Regions from separate parts of the Homo sapiens genome. Here all the other regions are linked to region 4. The links come from fine-mapping of genetic effects on gene expression. A gene starts in region 4. Each other region holds a variant in brackets. All regions are shown on one strand. Distances are from middle to middle.

Region 1 (4,000 bases), 55 kb before region 4:
ATGTCTTGGGCTCAAGTATATTATTAAAATAGTTTCATCTGTGTTTCTTTTTACTTTTTAAACGCAGCTCCTGGAAAATTTTAAATGATGCCTGTGGTTCCCATGAGCCTTCTACGGGCAGCGCTGTAAGGACCAGCACACCAGGGACTTAGACGCACTGATACCCACCCCACTAAGTGCCAAGCAGCTGGCGGCCCCACGGCACCAGCACAGGCCCCAGAGGCGGGTTGAGGCTCCACCACCACATACCGCCCAGGCGATCTCAGGCAGTTATCTAATTTCTCTCAGCTCTCATTTCCTCATCTGGAAACTGGGAATAATAACATCTATTTTCACAGGATTACTGAGAGGGGACAGTGAGGTAATCCATGGGAGCATCCCAGCCTGCTGCATGGGACCTGGCAAGTGCTCTAGAATGTTGGTGATTCTTCCTGAAGATCTGTAGGAGCCACTGTCCTCACCTGTGAGAGCGGGACGGTAAACACACTCAGAGTGGCGTGAGGGTCGGGGTGCACGTGGGAAAGCAGCTGCACACTGGGTCCTCGATCATGGCCCTCTGGGGACTAAGGATGGCCTCTCGGCAGGTTAGAGCCGCTGAGTGCTGCTCTACCCGCAGCCATTACGAAAACCACTCAGCGGCGCACACAAACTGGCCCCACTTGCTGGCAGGCACAGCCACTGGCTGAAGTAGCATCATGTTCAGCTGGATCCAATTCCCTCCCCAAGGCATCCTGCCCATCCACTCACCTTCCATCCTCTCTGGAGTGACTGAGCCTGCTCCACTGGGAGGGCGCTGGCGGTTCCCAGAGTGACTGAGGCTAGGCGGTGTCACCCCATACGATGTGTACTGGAGGAGGGCATCCAGAAGCCAAAAGCAGTCTGCGAAGTCAACAAGCCTGTTTAGGAATTCCTTTTTTTTTTTCCAGACAGAGTCACGCTCTTGTCACCCAGTGCAGTGGCGCAATCATAGCTCACTGCAGCCTTGAGCTCCTGGGCTCAAGTGATCCTCCTGCCTCAGCCTCCCAAGTAGCTGAGACTGAAGGCACATGACAGCATGCCCGGCTAATTTTTTATTTTTTGCAGAAATGGGTCTGGCTGGTCTCAAACTCCTGGGCTCAAGTGATCTTCTTGCCTCAGCCTCCCAAAGTGCTGGGATTATAGGTGTGAGCCACCACACGTGGCCCGGAATTTAGCTTTTAAGAAGAAATCTCTAAAGGAATTTTTTTTAAGTTAGTCCCCAAAAGTGGGGGAAATGGGAGTTCAGAAGTCACGAGTTTAGGTCAAAGTAAATCCAACATGTTCCAGATTCCCCTATTCTCATAAGACATGCATTCTCAGTGGCCCAGCCCAGCCAGATAAGCACACACAGCCATGACCTGACCAGGGCTCCACTCCCAGTGCCCCAGGGTTCCAGGTGGTCAGCACCACTGTCCACCAGGTTGCACCAACTGCCTGAGTGCCACACTCAGCTCCTCATGGATGGGGGCAGAATGGAGCTCATTCAGAGACAGTGAGACCATGTGACACCCACTGAGAAAAGAAGGGCCTGAGAGCGGGGTCTCAGGGGCAACAGGGAGAGGAGAACGGAGGGCCATGGCTCCTGCTGCATCCCAGAGGCTCTCCTGGGGAGAAGGAACTGTACTGACACCCCAGGGGGTGGAGGCAAGGCTCAACACCCATGCAGCATCTGTTCACTTGAGCTGGGCTTCGAGTCGGCAGGGCCCTGACCACTGGAAGTGTGACAGCAGAGAAAGGGCAATTTGTTTTCAGGGACACCTCAGAGTCGAGGCACTGGGCTAGCAACAGCTCCCGTTCACAAAGGATCCTTTCTGAGAGGGAAGGCGCAACCTGGTATTGAAACCTGGAGCTTCTGTTTCCATCTTGTTTCTCCTGTGTCTGCCCCTTCAAGTT[C/G]CATTAACATCAACCTGGACTAGACAAGATCCGTGTGAGAAAAATGCCATTAAGTACTTTCCTCTCATTAAAGGGCACTTCTGGTCAAGTGCTTAATGCCCCTGAAAGATGAAAAAAGCTGCCATTTTAAATGTAAGGCCTAGGACCACCCTCTCAGGCATTTACAATTTAATAAAGACTCTTACCAGGAGATCTCAGGTCTTAAAATCTCTGTGGAAATAAAACATTAACCTCCTTTAACTGTGACTTTAACCCTCACTTTTAATTTTAATTTTATTTTATTATTATTTTTTAAAACAGTGTCTTGCTCTGTCACCCAGGCTGGAGTGCAGTGGCACGATCTCGGCTCACTGCAACCTCTGCCTCCCGGGTTCAAGCAACTCTCCCACCTCAGCCTCCCAAGCAGCTGGGACTACAGGCACACGCCACCACGCCTGGCTAATTTTTGTATTTTTAGTAGAGACGCGGTTTCACTGTGTTGGCCAGGCTGGTCATGAACTCCTGACCTTGTGACCCACTCACCTCGGCCTACCAAAGTGCTGGGATCACAGGCGTGAGCCACCGCGCCCGGCCCATTTTTGATTTTTAAAAAGACCCATCCCAGTCTAGGGATTTACATAAATGCCAGGAATGTAGTCAACTTCAGCCTGAAACGGAGGGGCACACACACACCTCTCAGCGCACGCTGTTAGTGCCTCATTCTTGTCACTCACCACCCGCCCTGTGCCTCGAGTTCCCCAGTGGTCACAGCGCATTAGAAGGTTGCCTTTCAGTCCTGGTGTCATTATCATCTCACCAGGTAAAAACATGGAGCACTTTTACCATTCTTTCTCCCCTTTACAAAATGAGAAAAATAGTCTGTGCCCAACCTCAAGCCCCCAAATCCAACGGATGCATCGAGAGACTGACATAAAGACGCGGAGGGAAGAGGACTGGCATGCCTATTTGCCTCCCCTTCACGCCTCGAGATAACAAACGCTCTTCACTGATAAAGGCTAAGAAAAGCCCGAATTCCAGGTCTGGAAGGACAGCCAAGAGCCAGCCCTCCAGTAAAAGAGTGAGTCAGACCAGAGAAGGGCGCCCCCTCGTGGCAGTGCCCACAAAGTCCAGGCAGCACGGCGTAGGAAGCCTGGGAGGGGCAGGCCCCAAGGAAGTCAGGGAAGGGACTCTCCACCACAACGCGGGAGTCCCGCCTCCGCTGGCCTCAGGAAGGTGAAGATGGAGAAGAGGCATCATGGCCCCAACAAGTAGCTTTGTTTTGCTTATTAAATGTGTGCACACTCAGACACCTATCAAAATATTCCAAGCAATCAAAGTGACTGCAACATCTCCAGCTGAGCCTGGCTCAAGTGAACAGATGTCGGCTGATCTGCCAGCATCTCACGGGCGCCTTTCCAGAGACAAAGGGAAGAAAGGATCTGAGTGCCGAAGTCACAAAGTCCATCTGCGTTTTTCCTACCCTTCTGTCGGTGACTGTCATCCAAGCAATTGGAGTCCCCATACAGTACAATCCGGCCTCCACCCTCAGCTGGAATCTGATAAAGTCCCAAAATGGGGACGTTTTCAACAACTGCTGTTTCCTGCTTTAAAACCTCCAATCCTGAAACAACACAACAAAAAACAACAGCCATGAGAGTTTCCACTGAGCAGTGAGTTATTTCCTGATATTTCATCCACGTGACAAATAAACCACATTTACAAAATCTAATATTCAATTAAAACATTGCAAATTTTTAGAATAGAAAAGCCTTAAGAATAAGCCTTTTAGAATAGAAATGTCTTAAGTGCCATTGATTTGTTTTAGCAAAATTCACTTTGTGTGTATTTCCGTATCTATCCACTTTCATTTTTACTTGCCATGGCAGTACATAATATTTACAATTGCAAAGGTGCTGCCTCTATCTTAAAAAAAAAACCTAAATTGTGTCCCCTCTTATTATCCTGAAAGGCCTATGTTTTCAGACACCTACACAAAGGGCAGCCAGCAGATCTTGCTAAACACACAGGTTTCTCTATGAATACAGTCATATATACTAATACCCAGGTTTCACGTTTTATTATGAAAAGCTAGGACAAATGTAACTAATTT
Region 2 (4,000 bases), 42 kb before region 4:
GGAGGGCAAGGCGGGAGGGTCATGAGGTGAGGAGATCGAGACCATCCTGGCTAACATGGTGAAACCCGTCTCTACTAAAAATACAAAAAATTAGCCGGGCATGGTGGTGGGCGCCTGTAGTCCCAGCTACTCGGGAGGCTGAGGCAGGAAAATGGCGTGAACCCGGGAGACGGAGCTTGCAGTGAGCCGAGATCGTGCCACTGCACTCAAGCCTGGGAGAGAGCGAGACTCCGTCTCAGAAAAAAAAAGGCAAATCACCCAGTGAAGGTGTGGTGGAGCCATCTTCTCCTGAACCCCACTGGCAGCAGTCTAAGCTGACATAACTCCACTGGACAGAATTTGGTAGGATGTGCCAAGAGCCATCCTTGACTGTTCACACCCTCTGATTCAGGGAGCAAATCCAGGGAGTTTATGTTAAGGAAATAATTCAAAATAAAAGAAAACCATATATGCAATAATATTCAGTGAAATGTTTATAATTGAAAACTACCTAACAGTTCAAAGGAAAATAGCAAACAAATTATAATTTACTATTTCTATATAAACAACCATTAAGAAGTATACTGGTGCCATGCATATAGTTGAATTTTTCTTTTCTTTTTGAGATGGAGTGTTGCTCTGTCACCAGGTTGGAGTACAGTGGCATGATCTCGGCCCACTGCAACCTCCGCCTCCCAGGTTCAAGCGATTCTCCTGCTTCAGCCTCCCGAGTAGCTGGGATTACAAGCGTGTGTCACCACGCCCAGCTGATTTTTGTATTTTTAGTAGAGACGGGGTTTCACCATGTTTGCCAGGATGGTCTCGATCTCTTGACCTCGTGATCCTCCTGCCTCAGCCTCTCAAAGTGCTGGGATTACAGGCTTGAGCCAACACGCCTGGCAGCTGAATTTTTCAATATTTATGATATAATGAGAACCACCAAAAAAGTTGTGAATTTTTGCCAAGTGCACAATGATAACAAAAAAAATAAGTATTGCAGATAAGGGCTGGAAAAGAATATTTAAAAAACAGTGGCCAAGTTAGTATGCTGAGGCTGGAAGCGAGTTTTCTATGGTTTTTCCCTATTTTTTATTATTGTGATAGTGTCTACATAGTTAAGATTTTTAAAAATTTACAAAACAATATTAAAAAAAAAAGACCGTATCTTCCAAACACATTAAAGGATAGAATACTGGCTGGTGCGGTGGCTCACACCTGTAATCCCAGGACTCTGGGAGGCTGAGGTAGCTGGATCACCTGAAGTCAGGAATTCGAGACCAGCCTGGCCAACATGGTGAAACCCTGTCTCCACTAAAAATGCAAAAAATTAGCCAGACGTGGTGGCAGGCACCTGTAATCCCAGATACCTGGGAGGCTGAGCCAGTAGAATCGCTTGAACCTGGGAGGCGGAGGTTGCAGTGAGCCAAGATCATGCCATTGCCCTCCAGCCTGGGCAACAAGAGTGACACTCTGTCTCAAAAAAAAATAAAGAATGAAATACTACAACTGGGCCTTTAATTATAGGCGCAAAATTGTATAGATGAAAAATCAAATGTAATTAGCTGACTCAGGAGCCAAACTCAAGATGCCAAAGCAAAAAAGTAAAATTGGTTTCATTAATTTATACCCTGACTTATTCTGTAACAGACTTAGCATATAACAAATCACTACTTCCAATAGCCCTGGTACCCTAGACAGGGCTATTTCCTTTTTTTTTTTTTCCCAGACAAGGTCTTGCTCTGTCATCCAGGCTGGAGTGCAATGGCATGATCTTGGCTCACTGCAGCCTCAACCTCCTAGACTCAAGTGATCCTCCCACGTCAGCCTCCTGTGTATCTGGGACCACGGGCACACACCACCATCCCTGGCTAATTTCTTTATTATTTGTAGAGACAGGTCTCACTTTGTTGCTCAGGCTGGTCTTAAAGTCCTGGGCTCAAGTGATCCTCTCTCCTCGGCCTAGAACTTTTCCTTTTTTAACTTCAGCAGAAGTAACTATGGCCTAAAGGTCTGGGCTGTGTCTAAGTTCACCATCAAGTCAGAGACCAAGTCAGAGAGAAGTTTCACCTTATCTACAATTCTTCCTGTGACTCCCATGCCGTTGAGGATGGTGACATTAACAACTGTCGGCATTCCTCCATAGTAGATGGGCTGGGAGCAGTAGGGCCACATGTAGGGACACTCAGTCAGATCTATGTAGCTGGGGCTCAAACTGAAATAAAGAATACAGTGTTAGAGTAGATCATATGAGAAAACTACAATGAAGCAACACAACTGTACAAGACAGAGTTAACAAAGCAGACCTAGCTTCAGAAGGGCTTGCTTACAGCGCTGCCCTAGGCTGGCATCTGGGAACTTGGCTCTGGAATGCTCCTGCACAGATAAGGCCTCTGTGCCAGCCTGCTGTCTATACAGACAGTGTGATGTGCAGGGACACCTCTGCTTTTGCAAGTCTGGAGCTTTGGGAGTTGTCACTGGCAGAGAATGAGTACGTGACCAGCCCTAATGGAAACTTG[G/A]ACTTGAGTCTCTAGAGGGCTTCCCTGGGCAAAAACACGTACACATGTCAATGCAGCTTGCTGCTAGGAAAGGGGCCAGCTCTGTGAGACCCTGCCTGGCAGGAGAGAGGGGAGAGCTTAGGAAGCTGCGCCTGGATTTCTCCAGGCTTTCTCCGTGTGAGGCATCTTTTTCCCTTACAGAGCCGCTGTGCATCCTTGCTGTGCCACTATAATGAATCTTAGCTGGGAGTATGACCACAGGCTGAGTCCCGTGAGCCCTAAAGCACCGAGCCTGGGAGAGGTGCTGGGGACCCTGACATAATTTGTGTCAGAAGTGCTGACACAAGTGCTCTGGCAATTATGTTGGTTTCATGGTTTCCCCTTATCTGAACTGAGTTTGTGTTGGGTTCACATCACTCCTAGTGCAGCAGCGGTGTCAGCTACGCCCGAACAGGTGAAAAGACAGGAACAGACAAATGTTTCAGACAAGACGTGACCCACGATGGCCTCCCTGAGAGCACCAGGCATACGTGGATCCTGCTTCTCAAGCTGCACCCACGTGCAGTGGGCGGGCGGCTCTGCGCAACTGCTTCACCTCATTACAGGAGATGCCAGCCTTTCTCAAACAGCAACTACGGTATAAGGAGTACTTTTTATTAGTTTGTAATAACAAAGATGTATCTGGGCCAACTGAATTGCTATTTAAGAAACCAAATGGAATATCTTTAGGGATACTGTGACTTTCACAGGCAGTTATAATCAACACATATCACAGTTAAGTTATCTCAACAGATACCACCTTCACAAGTCTGAAGTTCACCAAAAAAAGAAAAAGAAAAGGAAATAGGTACTACCTAGTTTTAAAAATCCTGAATGGATCGGCCATGTGACTACAATTGTATGCATCAGCAAAGGTATCTGTTCTACTTGAAATGTGTTTGTAAACTTTGCTGGTAATTGTGCTCTGTAATCAGTTTAATTCGACTACTAATTCAACATGATTTAACTAGGAAACCATTATTAGCAAACAGAATTCAACATCATATTAAGAAAACAAAATAGCAAGACCAGTGGCATTTATTACAGATTGGTTCAATATTGGGAAACTCATTAATATCATAAACCATATATATTAATAGGTCTAAAGTATTCATATGATTACCTTTCTAGATGCTGAAAAAACATACAAAATTCAATCCACAGTCCTCATGAAAACGCTCAGAAAAACAGCACTAGACAGATAATCTAACACAATAAAAAATATATACATATATATATAGATATACACACCTTAGGGATAAATCCAGCATCTTACTTAACGGAGAAATACAAGAGGCATTTCCATTAAGATTAGGAACAACGTAAGGATAGCCACTCTCTCCCCTGCTGTTCAACACTGTGCTAGATATACCAGCCCATGCAACTAGACAGAAAATAATCAATGAAGCCTTAAGAATTGGCAAGGAAGATGTAAAACTATCTTTATTTCCATATGGTAGGTTAGTACACCTGGAAAACCCTAGAGA
Region 3 (4,000 bases), 36 kb before region 4:
CAGTGCCACCTTACCTAAGTTACCTGACGCTCTCAACCCGGACCAGCAGTGCCACCTTACCTAACAGAGCTACCCGATGCTCTCAACCCAGACCAGCAGTGCCACCTTACCTAACAGAGCTACCCGATGCTCTCAACCCAGACCAGCAGTGCCACCTTACCTAACAGAGCTACCCGATGCTCTCAACCCAGACCAGCAGTGCCACCTTACCTAACAGAGCTACCCGATGCTCTCAACCCAGACCAGCAGTGCCACCTTACCTAACAGAGCTACCAGACGCTCTCAATGCTGAGCAGGGTAAATTTTTAGCAATTTACCCTGAAGGAACACCTCCAACAAAACTAAGACACACAGGCCTGAGGTTATTCACTGCAAGTTTATAATTACAAAATACTGGAAACAACTTAAAAGCCCATATGTAGACAAGTAGTGGCTTAAACGATTGTACATTCACAGGATACGGCTGTGAAAAAGGAGAATCTCTACGCACTGACGTGGAGAGATTTCCAGGACGTTAAGTGAAAAAAGCAGAATCCAAAACAATATCCACAGCGATGCTATCCTTCTATGTATGTGCTCATTTGTGGGGTGGTGGGGGCAGGGGGAAGGATAAACCCAAACCTGATGTCATGGTTACCTAAGGCGTGTGCGGAAGCCTGGTAGAAAGAATGGGCGAGTGGGAACTGACATGGTTTGGATGCTCGCCCCCTCCCAATCTCACGCTGACGTGTAATCCCCCATGTTGGAGGTGGGCCTAGTGGGAGGGACTGGGTCCTGGGGGAGACCCCTCATGGGTGGTTTAGCACCATCCCTCTGGTGGTAACTGAGTTCTCACTCAGCTCAGGCAAGATCTGGGTGTTTAACAGTCTGGGACCTCCCCGCTCTCTTGCTCCCTCTCTTGCCATGTGATGTGCTGGCTCCCCTTCACCTTCTGCCATGATTGGAAGCTCCCTGAGGCCTCCCCAGAAGCAGGTGCTGGTGCTATGCTTCCTGTACAGCCTGCAGAACCAGGAGCCAACTGAACCTCTTTTCTTTATAAATTACCCAGTCTCAGGTATTTTTTTATAGCAGTGCAAGAACAAACGAACACATCCTTAGAACCACAGTCATGTTTCACACACCCAATAACAAGTTATAATCAACGAGGATGTGGGGGAAATCTAAAAAGGAATACAAACACGAATAAATGAGTCCAACTGTATTAAAAAGACACCAAGGAAAGAATTAACCTAAGTAACTGAAAAAAACACTATAACTGTATTCTGTAGGGCCAAAGATAATGACGCACTGTCACAAATACTATATTCAAAAAACTCACAAGGACATGGGCTAGCAGTTCCAAAGCTGCTCAGTACGTATACACTACAACTAAGCAAATAAGCCAACATATTGTGGATAATGAGAGCCAGGCTTCTCACTGTTGGAGAATGGAGTTAGAAACAGAGGTAACATGACCATCTCTGTAAATAAGAAATAAATAAATAAATAGAAACAAGGATAGGGAAAGGCTGGAATGAACACTGAGATACTGGCTGGAACCTGGAGGTGGCATGAACTCATGTTTCCAGTACATACACAGATAGGCAGATACAGAAGCAGTCGTATGTGTCTGTGCACGTGTCCACACGTTGCCTAGCTCTGTCCGAAGAGCGCAGTAACCACTGTGAGCACAGCAGCTTGGAGCACCCCGAGTGCCCAGGTCTTGATTTCTTTAGAAGAGGCCATCAGCAAAGAGCTGCTTGGAGACAGAACTGATACCAAGGCTAGAGCACAGAGGTGCATGACAGGACATCCTGTGCTGCCAGGAAGACAGAAAGTGCTCAGAAAAGGCTGGACACATGCTGAAAACACACATAAGCCAACTAGATGGAGCTCCCAACAGCCAACTCGGGGACAATTTGAA[C/T]GACCCACTAAATGATATTAATTATAATCCACAGAGTAAAATAAATATCTATGTGTCCACACTGATGTAAAGAACTGAATAAATAAATGGGACAGAAAGGACAGCTCTTCCTTCCAGGAGAGTTCCAATTAATCAATGTAAATGGAATGAAGGAAAAAGAAAATCATCACGTGTCAAAGTTGTCAGGAGTAATCACCAAAGGCAAGAACCATCAAGGCATGCTAACATGAGTGAGTGGAAGTATGTGACGAAACAAGGCCATCTCGAAACATGCCCCCACAAGACACTGAGAAGTCACAAAGGAAACACGGGCTGCACAGTGGAGACACCTGGCAGGAGCCACCTCTGGCCCCACAGGGCCAGCAGCTCAGGTCTCCTCTGCAGGACACTGCTGGCTGACACCCGCAGCTGCCACCCTCAGGTCCTCACACGTCTGTGCCAAGGCCACGCTTCCCCTGGGGCTGCTCCCAGCCAATGACTAAGCACACAGGAGGCACCAGGGCAGGCCCATTCTGGGGGGACACAGGACTCCTCCAACAGGCAATCTGGTTCAAGGATTTCCCATCAGCCAAAACTTTTTCAGGCCTGTGCGAGCCTCTTCCTCCCCAGTCCTCCTAACTTTTCGGTGTCAGATCAGCACTGCAGTTCCTGCCTATTCCCACACCCTTCCCTTTATCCTTCAGAGGCCCTCACTCCCCACATATCTTTTGAACATGTAATCCTAGCTTGACGTCTGCTTCTTGGAGGACCCAGACTGACAGACCACATTAATCAAATGATGAAAATGAATACCCCCAATAACAAGATGAAGGAAAACGGAGGAACCGTCTGTGATTAGAGGAAACCAAGAAGACAGGACAATGAAATCCAATGTGGGATCCTGGACTGGATCCCAGAGAATGGACCTGTGGGACAATGGGCGGAATCTGCGTGAAGCCTGCAGGTCAGTCAGCAGTGCTACATCAAGGTTCATTTCCAGACTCTGACGCTCATACTGAGGTTATGGAAGATACTAAGGTGAGGGAAAGCTGGGTGAAGGACTCAGGGGTTCTCATGAACTATTTGTGAAACTTTGCTGTAAATCTAAAATCATTTCAAAATAAGGGTGAAAACAAAGCAGGGCCCAGGCCGGACGGGAGTACCACAGGAGCTGGCGAGATGTATGTGGTCTGCAGGTGAATTACAGCACAGTGTCAGTGTTTGTATGACAGTTTTAACAGCTGTACTCCACTCATCTGAAATGGTGGCATCAGGGGAAACTGGGCAACCTTGTAGGACAACTCTCTCCTATTTCTGCAAAATTTCTGTAAACCTAAGATTATTTCAAGAGTCTAAGAAAGTAAACAACAAAAGCAAAAAAACCACTCAGAAATCATTACTTTTAACCATTTATATTAAAGATCACATCAGTAAGCGAAAGCAGCTACCAGTTCTGCCAGCAGCACCCTGTAGAAGCAGCAGCAAAACCTCTCCAAGCACCCCGAGAATTCTGTGCTTAGTCATCATTTTCTGTTTTGAGGCTTGTATTTTGTGCAGAGGGAAAATTCGCCCAGAGCCCAGTGAAGGAGAGAAAGACCCATCGGCAGGGCGGTGCACTGACCTTGCCTGTGGCTTGTAGCTGTTGAGGATCTGATAGGCTCTGAGCAGATCGAGCTTGCCGTGGCCTTGCTCAAACATGTTGACCCCGGGGAGCCTCCGGGCTGACGCGATCAGGGCCTGCTTCATACTGGCGGGATTCACCAGCTCACGCTTCTGGACTGTGCTGGAGGAAAAATCAAGAATTGCCTATTTTCTCTCAGTAAAAGAATGGAAATTGGACCACTAAAACCTAACCTACAAACGTGCACACAAGAGGCCTGCAGTCTTGTTTAGTATCCAACAGGTGCTTGTCTGGCACAGCCTGCATGAGAGAATGAGTGCACACTCATCTCTGTACCCAATCCAGGACTGACCACTCCGCAACCTTCTACGGGACCCACTTATGCTAAATGCATCAGTAACACATATTTTTGTGATAATTCAACTAAACAACCACATAGGCTGCAGAAGGCATGAATGTATAGGAGGTACTGACTCCTCTGGGGAGAGGAAGCCTGC
Region 4 (4,000 bases):
GTCCCGGCTACTCGGGAGGCTGAGGCAGGAGAATCGCTTGAACCCGGGAGGCAGAAGTTGCAGTGAGCCGAGATCCACCACTGCACTCCAGCCTGGGCGACAGAGCGAGACTCTGTCTCAAAAAAATAAAAATAAATAAAGCGTTTCCTCAAGCAGAATTCCGCAGCACTGATGGCAGCAATGTACAGTTCACCTTAGCCTTCAGTCTTCCAAGTTTTTTTTTGTTTTTTGTTTTTTGAGACATAGTCTCACTCTGTCGCCCAGGCTGGAATGCAGCGGCGTGATCTTGGCTCACTACAACCTCTGCCGCCTGGGTTCAAGGGATTCTCCTGCCTCAGCCTCCCGAGTAGCTGGGATTACAGGCGCCTGCCATTGCGCCCAGCTAATTTTTGTATTTTCAGTAGAGACGGGATTTCACCACGTTGGCCAGGCTGGTCTTGAACACCTGACCTTGTGATCCGCCCGCCTCGGCCTCCCAAATTGTGGGATTACAGGCGTGAGCCACCGCGCCCGGCCCAGCCTTCCTAGTTCTTGTTAACCTCCTGACTAGAAGAGCTCCCACTTCTTCCCTAGGTGCTTCAAAGGTTCCGCAAGCTCTGCATTGGAATTTTCCCTTTTTATATAGAAAGGACCAACTCTTGATTATACGGGGTGCCTGGGGAGTGCAGTCGTTTGACACGTGTCTGGGTCAGGTCCCAGCTCCCATTCTCAATCAACAGTTTTGCTGTCATCCGCATCACACATTAGAGCATAAAATAAACTTTTATTTGTCAAAAGTGTTCTGCATAAATGCTTAAACAAAATGTGGTATAGCCATACAACTGAATATTATTTGGTCATAAAAGGAATGAAATCCTGATTCATGCTACAACATGGATGAACTGTGAAAACATGCTAAGTGAAAGAAGCCTGACACAAAAGGCCGCATATCATATGTTTCCATCTGAATATACGAAATAGTCATTAAAGGCAAATCTAGAAAGACAAAGTAGATGAAAGGTTGCCTGTGGCGGGGCCTGGAAATGGGCATTGACTACAACTGGGCATCAGAGGTCTTGGGGTAACGGAAATGTTCTAAAAGTGGATTTGGTAGTGGCTGTGCTGCTGTAAATTTACTAAAAACCACTGAATAGTACACTTAAAACAGGTGGATTTTATGGTATGTAAATTCTACTTCAATGAAGCTCTTACATTAAAAAATAAGTATAAATAATAAAAGCGGATTCTCCAGATTGAAAAAAAAAAAAATGAGAGGAATTACTTCTCTTCTGCAAGCCCTCCTTTTCGTAGACATACAATTGGAGACCTTGACGTTAGGAGGGCTTACCTACACAGTTCAGACTAAAGGATGAGTCTCCAGAATTCAACGCAGGTCGTATTCCACTCCACGTAATTTCGAAGTGTCAATCAGAATCTAATAACTTAATTTGTGTAGACAAATAGGCCAAGATTCTCAGGGGCTCAACCCAATATGAAAGGTAAACATCTTAATAAAAATACTGACGATCCACAACGGTCTTAGGTAGCGCAACCATGCCAAGGCGAGGCAAGATTTTTAAGAAGCTACAGGTTTAAAAGGCAATCTGGTTCTGAGAGTTCGCCGAACAGAATCCCCGCATTTCCAAAAACCAGCAGCGCAATATGCACAGACCGAGATAAGGCAAAGAATCGACGTCTTTTAAACCTGACGCCAGCACTGCCCCGGAAGCGCACCTAGAATTGAGTCTGTCTGGAGGCTCCGGGCCAGAGCAGGGCGTATTGTTTCACTCGGTGAATGCTCATTTCACGTAAAGAAAACCAGGCAACGGAACAAGCTGCCGGAGCGCGCAGACCCCCGCAGGGCCGCGGTACAGGCACGCTGTGTCCAAACAAGCGCCGGAGGCCCCGCGCCCACCTCCCCCGACCCGGCCCGGCCCCCGCAGCCCTCGCCTCGGGGCCTCGGACGCAACCGGCACACCTGAGCGAGCGGGCCGCCGCCGCTAGGCGGAGCGGGTCGGGGAGGCCGCGCGCGGGCGGCTGACGTACCTGCGCCGCCGGGAGCTCAGGGCCGGCGGGCCCGGGATAACGGCGCCTCCGCGGCGAACACGCCTGGGCACTCCATTCGGGGCTGTTTACTCCCAACTCTCGCGAGACTGGGCGACCGGGCCAGCGAGGCCCACAGCTGGGAGCCTCAGCTCCGCCGACCCAGCGTGCCCTGTCTGTCCCGCGCTCCCGGGGCTTGCGTGCGCGCTCTGGACGCCGTGGGCAGCGGGACCACGCCGGGAGGATGGACGAAGGTCTCGCGACATTTGCGGCGGCGGGGGCCGGTGGCAGGGTGGAAGCGGAGGGGCGTGGCCAGCGAGCTGCCAGGCGGCGAGAACGCGCTGGGGGAACCCTTGGTCCGCTCTGCGCGTCGCTCTAGGATCCCCGAAAAGGAGCACGGGCGCGAAAGCGGCCAGGCTGGGCCAGGATCTAGAAAGACTGCCTGGCGCAGGCTCCCTGCCCCCGCGGGCCTGCTGTCATGGACTCGTGGAGAGCTCGCTTCCCGCGCGGACCCTTCCTGCAGGGGTCCACGTCCAGGCACCGGCGGCTCGGACACCCCACCCCCGGCCGGGCACCTGCCCTGGGTGCCCCTTAACCCGGGCGGTAGCTCGTTAAGATGGCGAAGTGTCCGGTCCGGAACACGCGAAACCCCAAATCCCGCCTGCCCGACCTCCTGACCCCCGGCCCCACGGGACGACAGACTGGGCCTCCCGACGCGCAGCGCGCTGCCGGGACACCGGTGCGTGCGAAACGGAGGACCTTTGTAACGCCACGTGTTTGCTCTTTTTGAAAAAACAAGAATAAATGTGTTAAACTGTCTGAAAAGCTTGCCGCCTAAAAGATGTCTGGGTGACTTAGATGCTAGGATCAGTTTGTTTTCAATGTAAATGGACCAGCCCGGACTCCGTACGGCACTAGCAGGGGACTGAAAGCGTCTTCAGGTACTGCTGGTGGGCGGTGATGCGCTACAGGCCGATCAGACAGTTTTGTGTCTTTTGGAACTTGACACTGCACCACGGTAATGCTGAACTGCACCAATATTACAGATCACAGCGCATCATCTTCCTTCAACATGATTTAACACAGTTGACTTAATATGGTGGATAAATGTAGAATCACAAATTACCATACCCCACCTCAGGCTTCTACTTCGTAATTTTGAGCAGGTTGTTTAACCTCTTTGTACCTCAGCTTCTTCATTACAAAAATAGGGGTACTAGCCAGGCGGGGTGGCTCGCGCCTGTAATCCCAGCACTTGGGGAGGCCGAGGCAGCCGGATCACTTGAGGTCAGAAGTTTCAGACCAGCCTGGTCAACATGGGTGAAACGCCGGCTCTACCAAAAATATAAAAACTTAGCTGAGTGTGGTAGCGCATGACTGTAATCCCAGCAACTCAGGAGGCTGAGGCAGAGAATCGCTTGAACCTGGGAGGCGGAGGTTGCAGTGAGCTGAGATCGTACCACTGCACTCCAGCTTGGGCGACAGAGCGAGACTCTGCCTTAAAAATAAATAAATAATTTTTTTAAAAAATAGGGGTACTAATATCTACCTTAAAGGATGAGGGTTAAATTAAGTACACACATAAGCCCTAGCGCAGTGGCTTATGCCTGTAATCTCAACACTTTGGGAGTCTGTGGCGGGAGGATCACTTGAGCCCAGGAGTTTGAGACTAGTCTGGGCAACAGAGACATGTCTCTATAGTTGTGTTTGGTTTTGTTTTTACCAGGTGTGGTGGTGTGCACCTGCAGTCCCAGCTACTAGGGAGGCTGAGGTGGGAGGACTGCCTGAGCCCAGGAGGTCGAGGCTGCAGTGAGCCATGATTGTGCCACTGCACTCCAGCCTGGGCAACACAGCAAGACCTTGTCTCAAAAACAAACAAAAAGCATACTCATAAAGTGCTCGGCTCCTATATGATTCAATATGTGGTGGTGGATTCTTGAATCCTTTCCTGACTCAGATCTCATACGATTTTCTGAAC
Region 5 (4,000 bases), 29 kb before region 4:
AGTATTTTAATTTTGCTGACATGCCAGACTGGAAAGTGGACACTGGCTTATCACCAAGACCAGAAACTGGAAACTGCTTTATCTCTAGATAAGTTAAAATTAGAAATATGTTAGAAAAATTAGAAAATTAAAATGTAAAAAAACCCAAACATGTTTCTTTACAAGGAAAAAAGTACACGGTATGAGTGGATGTTTCAAACGGTTGTAAAAGAGGAAATAAGAAACCACTGAGAAGGAACAAGATAACCACACGACTAACTTGGGATAACGTTTTAATAAGTACTTGCTTAAGCTTCTTAAGAATTGGGGCAAAACGAAAATTAGAATAGGATCTCATATTCTGTCAGAAAACAGGAGCCCAATTTGAAGGGAAGCCCTTTTCTGACCATCAAACCCAAGGACCATGGATGCACATACTGGGATACCGAGTAAAGGCATCCTCCACTGCAGCTGTGATGATGGAAGGACATTTCTCAAATGCCATTAAAAAGCTGGCTGGTGATGAAGGCCATGGACGTGACATCTCATCACGGTTTGGTGAAAGCGTTTACACGGGGAGCTGGGGACAAAGTGGATGACATCTCACCACAGTTCGGTGAGAGCATTTACACAGGGAGCTGGGGACAAAGTGGTGGATGCAGTTTCCCATTATCCGGCAGCACAAGGAACATGCTGAGGGAGCGTGGATGGGAGGACACGCAGCCTGCCCTGCACAGACTGTCACATGAGAGAATGGTCCCCAGCCAACAGGTCAGCTCCAGGAAGAGGCACGTGAGTGTGGGAGGCGGGGACCCCTGGTGGGGCTGAGTGGCGGGGACGCTGGGGGCTGACGCTGTCACAGGACAAAGGCTCAGGCAGAAGGCTATCCTGTAAAGTGGCTACAGTGTGGACGAGGCCCACAGTGTTCCCAGGCAGTTGGGAATCTTTCCAGGGACTTATCTGAGGCCTCCGAGTGTGGCATGTGACGTTAAACACCAAGAGATGCTCTGACCCTGAAGAATGAGAAGGGCAGATGCTCCCCTCGGCCACAGCGAGGGCAAAGGTGCCCAACTGCTGTTCTGCACGAGCGTCTAATTTTTCATCAAACTTTGACAGGTAAAGGTGGGTGAATGTGCTGCATAATTAAACCCCAAACAGCTGAATTATTAACTGTAGCAGTTATTTTGAATTTGTCCAGCTAAATACAATTGTTTCTGTGTTAGCAGAGTTGATATTAAGCTGTTCTCAATGGTTTCTCCAACTTCTTAAGGCTCCCCTCCCCCAAAAAATATCATCTCACCTACCACTGAGGAGGACTGCTTACCACTACTAGATAGGGTAAACGGGCAGGAACCCAATTCACCTAAAGGTGAGTTCCTCAGAAATCAATTAATAAGTTAAACTGGGAAACACCGCTTAGAATCAGCCGGTGCTCATCACAGCAGCTGTGGACTTGCCAGAGTGAAGTGGCAGATGCTGACGGGGCCCAGATCTCTCGTCCTCACGGCTGGGCAGGCACTCACAGCCCCGGCTATTCCCATGTGAATGTGAGGGTGTCTGTGCACTTACAAATACACCCCAAGGCTCGTCAACAACCGGTGCCACTAGCCACAGTAGTTTGTCCAGCTAAATACAATTATTTAGCAAAGAAGAGCGTACCCAGGTAGTCATTCCCCTTGAAGAAAAGCGGGCGATGTTATCTTCAAAGTCAATGCCGCCTACTCCAATCACATCCATTTGATCAGCAGGGTTATTCAGAGTGCTATATTGAGAC[CA/C]AAAAAAAAAAAAAAGAAAAGAAAAAGAAAAAAACAAGAGAAATAATTTAAAATGGATGATTCAAACCAGGGCGAATACTCCCAGAACAATCTAACACTGTATGAGCTGCTTCTGTGGGAAGACGTGTGCAGCTCCTCACGGCTGTCCTGTGAAACGCATGATCCTGCCACGTTCATGCTGTGCTCACATTACGCCCTCTCACCTGCAACGCCCCTCCTTTCTTCTCCTCCCTGTCAACTTGGCACACTGGGGCTCAAGGCTCACGTTTTCCCTCCAGCAATCCAAGCCTTAAGCATCTGTACTTGCCTTGAACCTCACAACACTTAACACAATCACAATTTATCACCTAACGACACATTCTCACATCACTTTCAAATTGTTCCCAGCACATTCATCTTAACTCCCCAGCTAAATCACACACTTCTCCTGGAAGAAACCATAACCACACATTTACATCTGCCAAGGTCAGGAAGTGGTAAGTTTTCGATTGACCTGTGGTGGTGTTCTACCCTCCTCATAGGGAACTGTAGAAGGACTATCATTACTCTGTAATCTTGAGCTCCTTAGAGTCTCTCCAATACCTTAAGTGCACTAGATCTGCAAAGAAATTATAGTGAAATAAATAATGGCAAAAATGTGTAAACCGTAAAGTCAAGATAAAGATGAACCATTTGAAAATATGAGACACTCAGTTATAAAACTGCATTGCTAAGCTTTATTATGGCTCCACTACCAAAAAAAATGAACTCTTTGACAAATCAACAACTACATACAACTGATTCCAAGTGGCTTAAGAGATAATAGCAGCATGAAGTTCTCCTTCTAGAGTGTGTTTTTAACTGACAATTCCCAACACACCGAGAAAAAGTGGTACTGCCTCCTCAGCCCACTGGCCACCAATATCCTACCAGCTGGTCATTCAGAGGAACGAATAATGATTTTCTGATGACTGATGCTAGATGTTTACACATTCCCAGGAACTCAAGGAGCAGAGGCTGGTACAGAAGTCACTGACAGAAACTCCCACTGAAGTTGACCAAAAAAATACCACCTTCCCACCCTCCTCTACCTGCTAAGCCCTATAATGCTTAGTGTACTTTAAACCCTTAAAAAATAAGGGAACGCATCAAGAAATCATTGCTGGTATTGAAAAGGAGGGACGTGAGGCTGCAGGCTTGCTGGCACCACAGAGTCTAGGAGCACCAAGGGCACAGGACCCAGACAAAGAGACCACAGCAAAGGGGACCGGAGGATGTGTGCCTCATTCCCAGAGGGGCTGACGTATGCATGTTACTGTCCTCAGACCAGCCCTGGAAGCAGTCCCACCAGATGCCCAAGCAGAAAAAACCACACCCACCACAAGCTGGGCTGCCGTGATCACATGCCACGTTCTGTCACTTCAACAGCCAGCAGGTGGCCAGGTCTGTGTGAGGCAGCATGAGCGTACACACAAGGTGGAGATGGGGCCTTCCTGGCAAGGCTCTGCTCCTTCAACACACCATAAACTCACAACTCTGGTAAGAAGCTACGGAGTGCAACCACCCACAAAAGCCACAGGGTTTCAGAACGGCAGCCAGCGTGTGACAAAACAGTCCGAACAGCATGCGAAAGAGCTGGGAATCCAGACAGGTATGGCCAGGAGGATGGGCAGAGGGATGGGGTGCGGAAGACCTGAGAGAAACAGAAGGAGGACACTCATTCCAGGAAGGTGTACATGGGGAAGTGGAAGATCAAGGTGAACTGAGATTGTGGCTGGAGTTGGCCAACTACGGCCCATGGGCCAAACCAGGCCCACACCTGTTTTTGCAAATACAGCGTTCCTGGAACACAGTCATGTTCATTTACACATATATCACCCGCAGCTGCTTTCACACAATAACGCCTAAAATATTTATTATCTGACCCTTTACAGAAAAAGTTTGCAATTCAGCCTAGAATACTGAAGACCTTGAAAAACAAAAGAAAAATGTGGATTTCATCTATTAGGCAATAATAAACTGCTGCAGATTCTTGATTAGAAAACTGCTACAATATATGTTTGAACAGTAGAAATACGCACAAAAAAGAAAAAGAGCAGCTTCCATTCAAAGAGCATCATCAGCATTCATGGTGCTCTCCCCCTGCTGTCTGATTTCAGTCTCATAGGTACTCTGCAGGCTGCTCTCTACTCCCATCACAGGTGAGGGAGCTGAGGCTCAGAGAAGTGACGGTGCCTCAGCCGTAAGTGGCAGGTCGGACCTGTCTG

Alleles and levels. Positions count from the first base shown, and alleles are read on the strand shown. Sizes are in standard deviations (SD) of each study's normalised expression. Not every link is listed here.
As copies of G replace C in region 1, the expression in monocytes of the gene that starts at base 2,233 in region 4 goes up (moderate effect, 0.59 SD a copy in Fairfax 2014).
For the expression in monocytes of the gene that starts at base 2,233 in region 4, allele A in region 2 goes with a higher level than allele G (moderate effect, 0.68 SD a copy in CEDAR).

What was found. PIP is the estimated chance that this variant, and not a neighbour inherited with it, causes the effect. A credible set is the group of variants that fine-mapping cannot tell apart.
Region 1: its variant is the best candidate, but not a certain one, in a credible set for the expression of MBTPS1 in monocytes (Fairfax 2014, PIP 0.89).
Region 2: its variant is the best candidate, but not a certain one, in a credible set for the expression of MBTPS1 in monocytes (CEDAR, PIP 0.88).
Region 3: its variant is the best candidate, but not a certain one, in a credible set for the expression of MBTPS1 in testis (GTEx, PIP 0.80).
Region 5: its variant is the best candidate, but not a certain one, in a credible set for the expression of MBTPS1 in monocytes (Quach 2016, PIP 0.89).

Annotation. Positions count from the first base shown.
Region 1 is chr16:84,059,935-84,063,934 of GRCh38, forward strand. MBTPS1 (membrane bound transcription factor peptidase, site 1) reads right to left here. Exons shown (of 23, transcript NM_003791.4): 19 at 3,371-3,511; 20 at 748-879. Among named protein-coding and RNA genes, the nearest start is that of SLC38A8, 19 kb to the left of the region's middle. The variant C/G (reference allele first, on the strand shown) is at 1,912.
Region 2 is chr16:84,072,551-84,076,550 of GRCh38, forward strand. It overlaps MBTPS1 (membrane bound transcription factor peptidase, site 1), which reads right to left. Exons shown (of 23, transcript NM_003791.4): 12 at 2,047-2,191. Among named protein-coding and RNA genes, the nearest start is that of SLC38A8, 32 kb to the left of the region's middle. The variant G/A (reference allele first, on the strand shown) is at 2,496.
Region 3 is chr16:84,078,244-84,082,243 of GRCh38, forward strand. It overlaps MBTPS1 (membrane bound transcription factor peptidase, site 1), which reads right to left. Exons shown (of 23, transcript NM_003791.4): 11 at 3,504-3,665. Among named protein-coding and RNA genes, the nearest start is that of MBTPS1, 37 kb to the right of the region's middle. The variant C/T (reference allele first, on the strand shown) is at 1,904.
Region 4 is chr16:84,114,710-84,118,709 of GRCh38, forward strand. It overlaps MBTPS1 (membrane bound transcription factor peptidase, site 1), which reads right to left and starts at 2,233. Exons shown (of 23, transcript NM_003791.4): 1 at 2,026-2,233. It overlaps MBTPS1-DT (MBTPS1 divergent transcript), which reads left to right and starts at 2,334. Exons shown (of 1, transcript NR_186375.1): 1 at 2,334-4,000. RefSeq lists silencers at 1,724-2,153, 2,554-2,653 and an enhancer at 2,804-2,963.
Region 5 is chr16:84,085,720-84,089,719 of GRCh38, forward strand. MBTPS1 (membrane bound transcription factor peptidase, site 1) reads right to left here. Exons shown (of 23, transcript NM_003791.4): 9 at 1,639-1,741. Among named protein-coding and RNA genes, the nearest start is that of MBTPS1, 29 kb to the right of the region's middle. The variant CA/C (reference allele first, on the strand shown) is at 1,754.